2 linked regions of the Homo sapiens genome follow. The protein of the gene in region 1 interacts with the protein of each later gene in a biochemical or structural test. Each region holds a gene or a part of one and is shown in the gene's direction. Other genes may lie near its edges. The genes, in order: MPV17 and PEX5.

Region 1 (4,421 bases):
CAGTGGAGGTCAGCAGATGTCCCTCCCTCCTTGGAATGGCAGCCCATCCCAGGAGATGTCCTGACAACACCTGTGTACCCTGCATAGGGTCCCTGATGGGCCTGGGTGACATTATCTCACAGCAGCTGGTGGAGAGGCGGGGTCTGCAGGAACACCAGAGAGGCCGGACTCTGACCATGGTGTCCCTGGGCTGTGGCTTTGTGGTAAGTTCTCCCCTCAACAGGGCTTCAGTGGACTCAACAGTGGTCTTAGTTCTTTGCCATCCTTTGGCTTCCCTTGGACTCTCACACCTAAGCCAACCTGCCGCCCTCTTTTTTCTTAGTGTCCACTTCCCCTATTCTGATACTTGGGGCAGGGAGCTTAGTGAGGTAGAGGCCTAGGGCTCCCTCACTGCAGCCTGCTGCTATCTGGGGTTTACTTCCAGGGCCCTGTGGTAGGAGGCTGGTACAAGGTTTTGGATCGGTTCATCCCTGGCACCACCAAAGTGGATGCACTGAAGAAGATGTTGTTGGATCAGGTGAGCAGGAGAACAGAGTGGGGAGGGTGAGCTGTGTTGGGGGTAGGTGGGGATTTCAGCACTCATAGGACTTTAATTTCTCTTCCCTAGGGGGGCTTTGCCCCGTGTTTTCTAGGCTGCTTTCTCCCACTGGTAGGGGCACTTAATGGACTGTCAGCCCAGGACAACTGGGCCAAACTACAGCGGGTGAGCTGGGCAGGTGTGGAGAATGTCTCTGGCTGGCGGGCTGACAGCCCAGGGGAAGAAGACAGGTTTTACAGGGATAAAAAAGGGGGTAAGTGCAGGTAGGGCCCCAGGCCATGGAGGAGAGGAGCTGAGGGTTATGGTGCAGGAATGTGCTCTTTGAACCCAAGTCTGTGTGTGACATTCATACTGGGAAGTGGGAGCTGCTTGGAGGCGCAAGTGTTAATTTGTTCCTTCTCTGTCTCCCCAGGATTATCCTGATGCCCTTATCACCAACTACTATGTAAGAGCTGACACCTCAACTGCTTGTTCTCCTGCTTCCTTAAGTCTAGAACTGTCCTGGGATTGGGGGGTCCTCCTGACATGGGAAACCCTTCCGTTGGGATTACTCTTTCATTCCCAGGATGGGCACCATAAATAGGGAAGCCATCACCCAACTGTTCACCTTTTTCTTGTGTGCAGAAGTTGGGGTAGGGCCAGGCAAGACAGTGAGTCTGGGGTCAGGTGGTGGGGCAGCCATCCAACCTTTACATTTTCTCTTGCAGCTATGGCCTGCTGTGCAGTTAGCCAACTTCTACCTGGTCCCCCTTCATTACAGGTATGTTGCACCCCTACCCCACCCATCAAGGAAGACCCACGTTACCAACAGTTGGAGACAAAATGATTCTCATTTCAACCTTGAGCTACCTTAGACCCCCAAACGGAACACTGAGCCGTGATCAGAGTTCCTCAGATTCCCAAGCGTGTTATTCAGAATGTCTTGCCATTTCCGGAAACTGTCCCAGAGTGTCTGCCCACTGACCTTCTTCATCTCCCTAGGGAGGATCCTGCTTCTACCACCCTTGTCTCCATCCCACCTGAGCTCCGTCTTTGATGGCATATCTGGAGGGACAGTGGCTGGGGTGCTGCAGCCTAGGTTAGACAGAGAGGTAGACCAGAAGGCCAAGTAGGAGCCTGGTCAGACACTCACAATAAAGACAGTTGCTGAACTGCACCCAAAAAGATAGTGGCACTGAAGATGTGTGGTTCAAATGCTTGAAGGTGAAGGATCGTGGGAACAGGGGAAAATATGGAACGCTTCAGAGGGAACAGGGCCAAAATGTACATGAGTAGCATAGCTAAAACGAATACAGACTGGCTGGGCACGGTGGCTCACACCTGTAATTCTAGCACTTTGGGAGGCTGAGGCAAGAGGTTTGCTTGAGTCCAGGAGTTTCACACCAGCCTGGGCAATATAGTGAGACCTCATCTCTACAGAAAATACAAAAAATTAGCCAGTCACATGGTAACATGTGCCCGTAGTCCCAGCTACTCGGGAGGCTGAGGTGGGAGGATCACTTGAGCCTGTGAGATGGAGGTTGCTGTGAACTGAGATTGTGCCACTGCATTTCAGCCTGGTGACAGAGTGAGACGACCCTGTCTCCAAAAAAAAAAAAAAAAAAAAAAAAAAAAAAGGCTGGACACAGTGGCTCACGCCTGTAATCCCAACACTTTGGGAGGCTGAGGCAGGTGGATCACAAGGTCAGGAATTCGAGACCAGCCTGGCCAATATGTTGAAACCCTGTCTCTACTAAAAATACAAAAATTAGCTGGGTGTGGTGGCAGGTGCCTGTAGTCCCAGCTACTCGGGAGGCTGAGGGAGGAGAATCGCTTGAACCTGGGAGGCGGAGGTTGCAGTGAGCCAAGATCTTGCCACCGCACTCCAGCCTGGGCAACAGAGCGAGACTCCGTCTCAAAAAAAACCCGAAAAAACAAAAAAGGAATACAGACTTATGAACCAAATCCTAAACATTAGGGTCCTTTGCAACACTCTTTGAAACCAGAGCAAGGTTAATTTAAAACAGAAAGATGCTACTTTATATGATAGTCCGTACATTTCGGAAGATGAAATCTCAGCTGGTACAAGACAGATCAATGAACTTAGAAGGGGCCCAGATAGGGGCCCTTTCTGTGATTAACAGAGCTATGCATGGCAAGAGAGCCGCTGAATATTTAGCCTTTGAGGCTCTCAGCCAGGAAACAGAGCTCTGGGATGGCACTAGAATTTGAGCCAGTTGTCCTTTAGTGCAAGCCACACAGGCCCTTCATAGGGTGCTGAAAGGGCTGGGTGTCGTGGCTCACACCTGTAATCCCAGCACTTTGGGAGGCCGAGGTGGGTGGCTCACTTGAGGTCAGGAGTTCGAGACCAGCCTGGCCAACATGGTGAAACCCTGTCTCTCCTAAAAATACAAAAATTAGCCAGGTGTGGTGGAGCACACCTGTAGTCCCAGCTACTTGGGAGGCTGAGGCACGAGAATTGATTGAACCCGGGAGGCAGTGAGCCAAGATTGTGCTACTGCACTCCAGCCTGGGCAACAGAGGAGACTCCATCTCAAAAAAAAGGTGCTGAAGGAAAGAGACCTAAACCTGCCAATCCTTTGTCATGATCCCTCCTTTGCCATTTCATGCTCCCATCTCCAGCCCTTGCTCACTGCTTAGCCTTCCTCCTCTTCATTGTGTTATTCCTGTTCCTTAGGTTGGCCGTTGTCCAATGTGTTGCTGTTATCTGGAACTCCTACCTGTCCTGGAAGGCACATCGGCTCTAAGCCTGCCTCACTCCATCGTTTCCACCTTGCAGTGATGCAGCTTGACCCTGGAACGGTCAGACAACCTCCTCAAAGTGGGCATACCAGTTTCCACGGGGTTGGGTTGCCGGTCAGAGCTTAAGAGGACTAGCACCCTGCAATGCCCCTCTTCACTCTAAAATGTACACTGACTGCTTTAGAGCCCTTGATAATAGTCTTATTCCCACCACATACTAGGCACTCCATAAATATCTGTTGAACCTTCATGACCTTATCAACTTTACACCCATATCCCAGCAAATGCCACTCATCCCCACTCTTCATAGACACATTTGTTACTCTAACCCTGCCTAGGCTTCTTGTAGCTCCAGCTCTTTAGAGACTCCCGGAACCCTTTATATGGTGCCTCAGTAAATATGTTATTAAATATGTAATCCGGAATCTGCAGTGGTAATGAGTAAGTTTTTAAGCAGAAAACTATTGGGGAGTCATTTCTAGAGCTGGAAAGAAGCCAAGAGACCACCAAGCCCAATTTTTTTTTTTTTTTTTTTTTTTTTTTTTGAGACAGGGTCTTGCTCTGTCTCCCAGGCTGGAGTGCAGTGGCGCGATCTTGCCTCACTGCAGCTTCCGCCTCCTGGGTTCAAGCAGTTCTCCTGCCTCAGCCTCCTGAGTAGCTGGGACCACAGGCGCATACCGCCACGCCCGGCTAATTTTTGTATTTTTAGTAGAGATGGGGTTTCGCCATATTGGCCAGGCTGGTTTCAAACTACTGACCTCGTGATCCGCCTGCCTCGGCCTCCCAAAGTGTTGGGATTACAGGCGTGAGCCACCGCGCCTGGCCAAGCCCAGTCTTACAAATGAGGACCCTGAGGTTGGTAGGAGGGAGGTGACCTGTCCACACCAGGAGTTAGCAGAAACTTGAACCCATATTTCTTTGCTGCTCATGGGCAGAGTTACACTGCTGCTATGATTCCCAGGAGAGAAACTGAACTTTGCTAAACTACTTTGGCAAACTCAAAAGCAGATGGGCCAGCCATTTGTGGTCTGAAAGCACTCGGATGCTAGAGACCCTCTGTTACATGGTGCCTGTCAGACAGCCCTACAATTTGGATCCTGGGGCTGGAAAAAGATAAGAATGCTGGGAGACTTTGGTTGTG
Region 2 (3,815 bases), on another chromosome or scaffold:
AAAGTTAGCCTTTTTCCTGTTTAAGATATCAAGAATAACAAGAGATACACATAGAGAAAGTTACCAAGTTCCAGGATCTCGGGGAGTCACATCATCATGGTTCCTGAATTTTTCTGAGATGATTAAAGGGACTGAATTGGTTTCTACCCCCACCATTTTAATTTATGTTCTTTCTTCGTTTGCTACAGATTTCAAGGTCTCAAGTCTAATTTTCCTTGAGAGCATCCATTGCTCCTCGCATCCTTTAGGATTGATTCTTCTTACCCGAAGCCTATCTGATCAGGGACAAATGTGTGTGAAGGAGGCCCATGTTTAGGATGGGCTTCTCCGCACACAAGAGAAAAATCCCAAATCTAAAAACTAAAACTCACCTTTAATAAGATCTGTGGGTCTCTTTTATCACGTGTCTCTTTCCCACCCATAAGTTGGAGTTAAGGTAGAACAGTAGGTGCTCTTGGCTTTAAGAGTGCTAATCACTTTATCTTCTTAAGCTCATTAGAACTTCACAGTAACAGTAACACAAGGTGGATATCCCACCCCCATTTTATAGATGAGGAGACTGAGATTTGGAAAAGTTAAATACTTTGTGCAAAATCATTGAATAATAGAGATGATATTCAAACTCATGTCTGTGTGGCTCTTGAGATTCTTTTTTTTTTTTTTTTTTTGAGACAGGGTCTTGCTCTCACCCAGGGTGGAGTGCAGCGGTGCAATCTGTACGCACTGCAACCTCTGCCTCCTGGCTTCAAGGGATTCTCCCGTTTCAGCCTCCTGAGTAGCTGGGACTACAGGCGTGTGCCACCATGCCCGGCTAATTTTGGTATTTTTAGTAGAGACAGGGTTTCACCATGTTGGCCAGGCTGGTCTTGAACTCCTGACCTTAAGTAATCCACCACAGCCTCCCAAAGTGCTGGGATTACAAGCGTGAGCCACCGCACGCGCCCTCACGTTGAGATTCTTTGTGAAATTGCCGCAAGTTAAAATCTGAACCATAGCAAAGACCCTCTCCAAGACAGAAACTCAGTTTTTCACATAAACCTTAGACTTAAGTGCTATCTCTTATCACAGAGAGGCTTCTGTTGTAATGTGGGCATTAGTCATTTTTGATAATTCAGAAAAATCATTGCTACTATGAGCGTTGAGATGGATGAAATTTTTGCTGTAATTACCTGAATTGCATGCAGCCATTGAAATCTTCCTTAACTTGAAATGAAAAAGAACTTTAGAAAAACATGTTTTATCTGTCTCACCAGTTAAATGCTCTTAGTAGAGCTCTTCTAGTATTTTGTAGATTCTTTTGGAATCGTGCCTGTTTCACAGAGGCAGAGACATGCAAACCTTAGAATGGGAGTTGAGCTGTTTGAAGTCTGCCTTCATAAAAATGTCTTATTGCAGCAGTATATTGCTTTGCATGTAGTAGGCCTCTGGTATTGAATGAATGAATTGAGATCTGGGAGAAAAAGCTAAAGGAAAGGAGTTCATTTTGTCGTAACTGACTTTTTTTTATTATCCTTCATTTTTAATTACAGCATTTGTGGTTGATACAATTGTATGGGTTAGCTATGGCTTTATAGATAAGTAGATTTTGAGATGAAAGAAGGTTATACTTTTTAAGTTCTTATTTTAAAATCTCCACTGTTAAGAGTCAAAATCAAGTTTAAAAAGAATGTTGCAGCTCAATTATTTAAATTTAAATTTTTTATTTGGAAGTACTTAGTTTCACTGGAAGTTGAAAAAAAAAATGTATAGGAAGGTTCTGTATACCCTTCACCCAGTCTCCTCCAGTGGTAACATTTTACATAGCAGTTATGCAGAGATCAAAAATCAAGAAGTTGCCCTTGTTTCAATCCTCAGAGTTTATTAGGTTTCACCAGTTTTACATGCCCTTATTTGTGTGTGTGTGTTTTTTGCAATTTTATTAAATGTGTAGATTTGTGTAAGCACCATCATGATCAAGATACAGAACTATTCTCTCACCACATGAAGTTCATTTTTTTAGCTTACCTTATTTTGTAATGGAATCCCCCCGTCTTAAATCTTCTGGGTCAAATAATTCTCCATCTTGTGTTTGCTCAGATCTAGAGATAAAACACATCTTCAGGGTTCTTAAATTTAGACAGCTTCGGTTGACATGGTATGTGAGGTTCATATGATAATCGTGAGAGATAAACCTGCACTTTCATGGGAAAAGCCATGGATAGCAGTAGCAGAAGATAATTGGCAACAGATCTTTTCTGGATGTTGGAGGAGAGGCTTTGGAATAACAGTCTCATTGTGATGTTTTCTGCTTTTGTTATAGGTTTGCCATGAGCAGACTAATGATAATAACTAACATTTGTTACTGTATTCATTGGTTTTCACCGCAGCCCCTACTGTTATCTCTGCTTTAAAGATAAGGACATGGAAACTTAAGAAGGTTGAGTAACTAGTCTGAAGATGCACAGTGAATAAGTGATGGAGTTAGGATTTAAATGTGGGTAGACTGACCCTACAACTTGTATTCTTCTCCACAGTGCTGCTATTTAGCAGACACAGAAACTTTCATGAGTAAGAGTAGCAAGTTCTGAGTTTTTGACTTTTGAGCTTGGGGAAGATGTGCCTAGAAGGAATGAGTAAACAACGAGAAATTATATGAGGTGCACATTTTGAGTGGGGTATTTGGTGTCTAGGTTATTCTCACTCTACTAATCTGTATGACCTCAGGCAGTGCATCCCCTCTGTAGACCTTAGTTGCCTTGATCTCAGATGTATCCACATGGATCTGATTTTCTGTAGGAATTTCTCAAAGATTGTGAAGGCAGTGTGTTACTCTTTTGATTCTTTCGGTTATTTGACTCTTGTTGGAGTAGGTTCCCAATGCCAAGAAATTCTGGGTCTTGTGGCGATTTAATCTGGCCAACTACCAAATTATAGGTATTTGAGGATAGTTTTTCTCAGCTCTGGGATTTTTTTTCTTAAACTGCCTCATATCTATTGTTAAGTCCTCATGTCTGTTGTAAAAATTCAAAGGTGCTTTGTGTTTTTTCTGTTTTTTTTTTTTTGTCCTTGAGAGGACCATTTCATAGGAATTTGAAATGTTTTCTGTGAATTTGAGGAGCACTTATGGCCAGAATATGCTTTTGCAAAATACTCTAGTTGAGAGTTAGAAGTGTTTGGAGAGTTGAGGAGGTAGTAGTTATTTTTCAACAGAATGGAGCTAAGAATTTCAACTAAGAATGGAACTAAGGAACTAGGAGATCTTAAAGTCTCTTTGAGTATTAAGCATCTCCTTTCCGTCTCCACACTTGAGGCAACAGTCTAATTGGGGCAAATGGAAGAGAAATGCTTCCTGTAAGAGCTAGTGAGCAGAATCTGTATTTAATTTTTGAGAGTCCTTGAAATTAACAGATGGATCTATGGTCAAAAAAAATTGCCAACCATATTTCTTATTACATTATACATTATATATTATATATATTATATATACATTTTACATTATATATAATGTATATATAATGTATTTCTTATGTTATAACGTATTTCTTATTACATTATGTTATATATAATGTATTTCTTATTACATATGTTACATATAATGTATTTATTACATTATATATTATATATAATGTAATATATGTTATGTAATAATTATATATGTCATATATAATTTAATTATATGTCATATTTAATTATATATGTCATAATTTATATATGTCATATATAATTTAATTATATGTCATATATAATTTAATTATATATGTCATAATTTATATATGTCATATATAATTTAATTATATATGACATATATAATGTAATAATTATGTGTCATACATATA

The links.
Region 2: the proteins of MPV17 (region 1) and PEX5 interact in a test that uses a peptide from one of them, tested with the Homo sapiens proteins (one large-scale study listed by BioGRID).

What each region holds. Positions count from the first base shown.
Region 1 is NC_000002.12:27,308,776-27,313,196, reverse strand, and holds the end of MPV17 (mitochondrial inner membrane protein Mpv17), read left to right. Parts: intron 1-87; coding exon 88-203; intron 204-424; coding exon 425-517; intron 518-607; coding exon 608-703; intron 704-950; coding exon 951-983; intron 984-1,245; coding exon 1,246-1,298; intron 1,299-3,215; coding exon 3,216-3,285; 3' UTR 3,286-3,705; downstream 3,706-4,421. UniProt on the Homo sapiens protein: Non-selective channel that modulates the membrane potential under normal conditions and oxidative stress, and is involved in mitochondrial homeostasis.
Region 2 is NC_000012.12:7,192,586-7,196,400, forward strand, and holds part of PEX5 (peroxisomal biogenesis factor 5), read left to right. Parts: intron 1-3,815.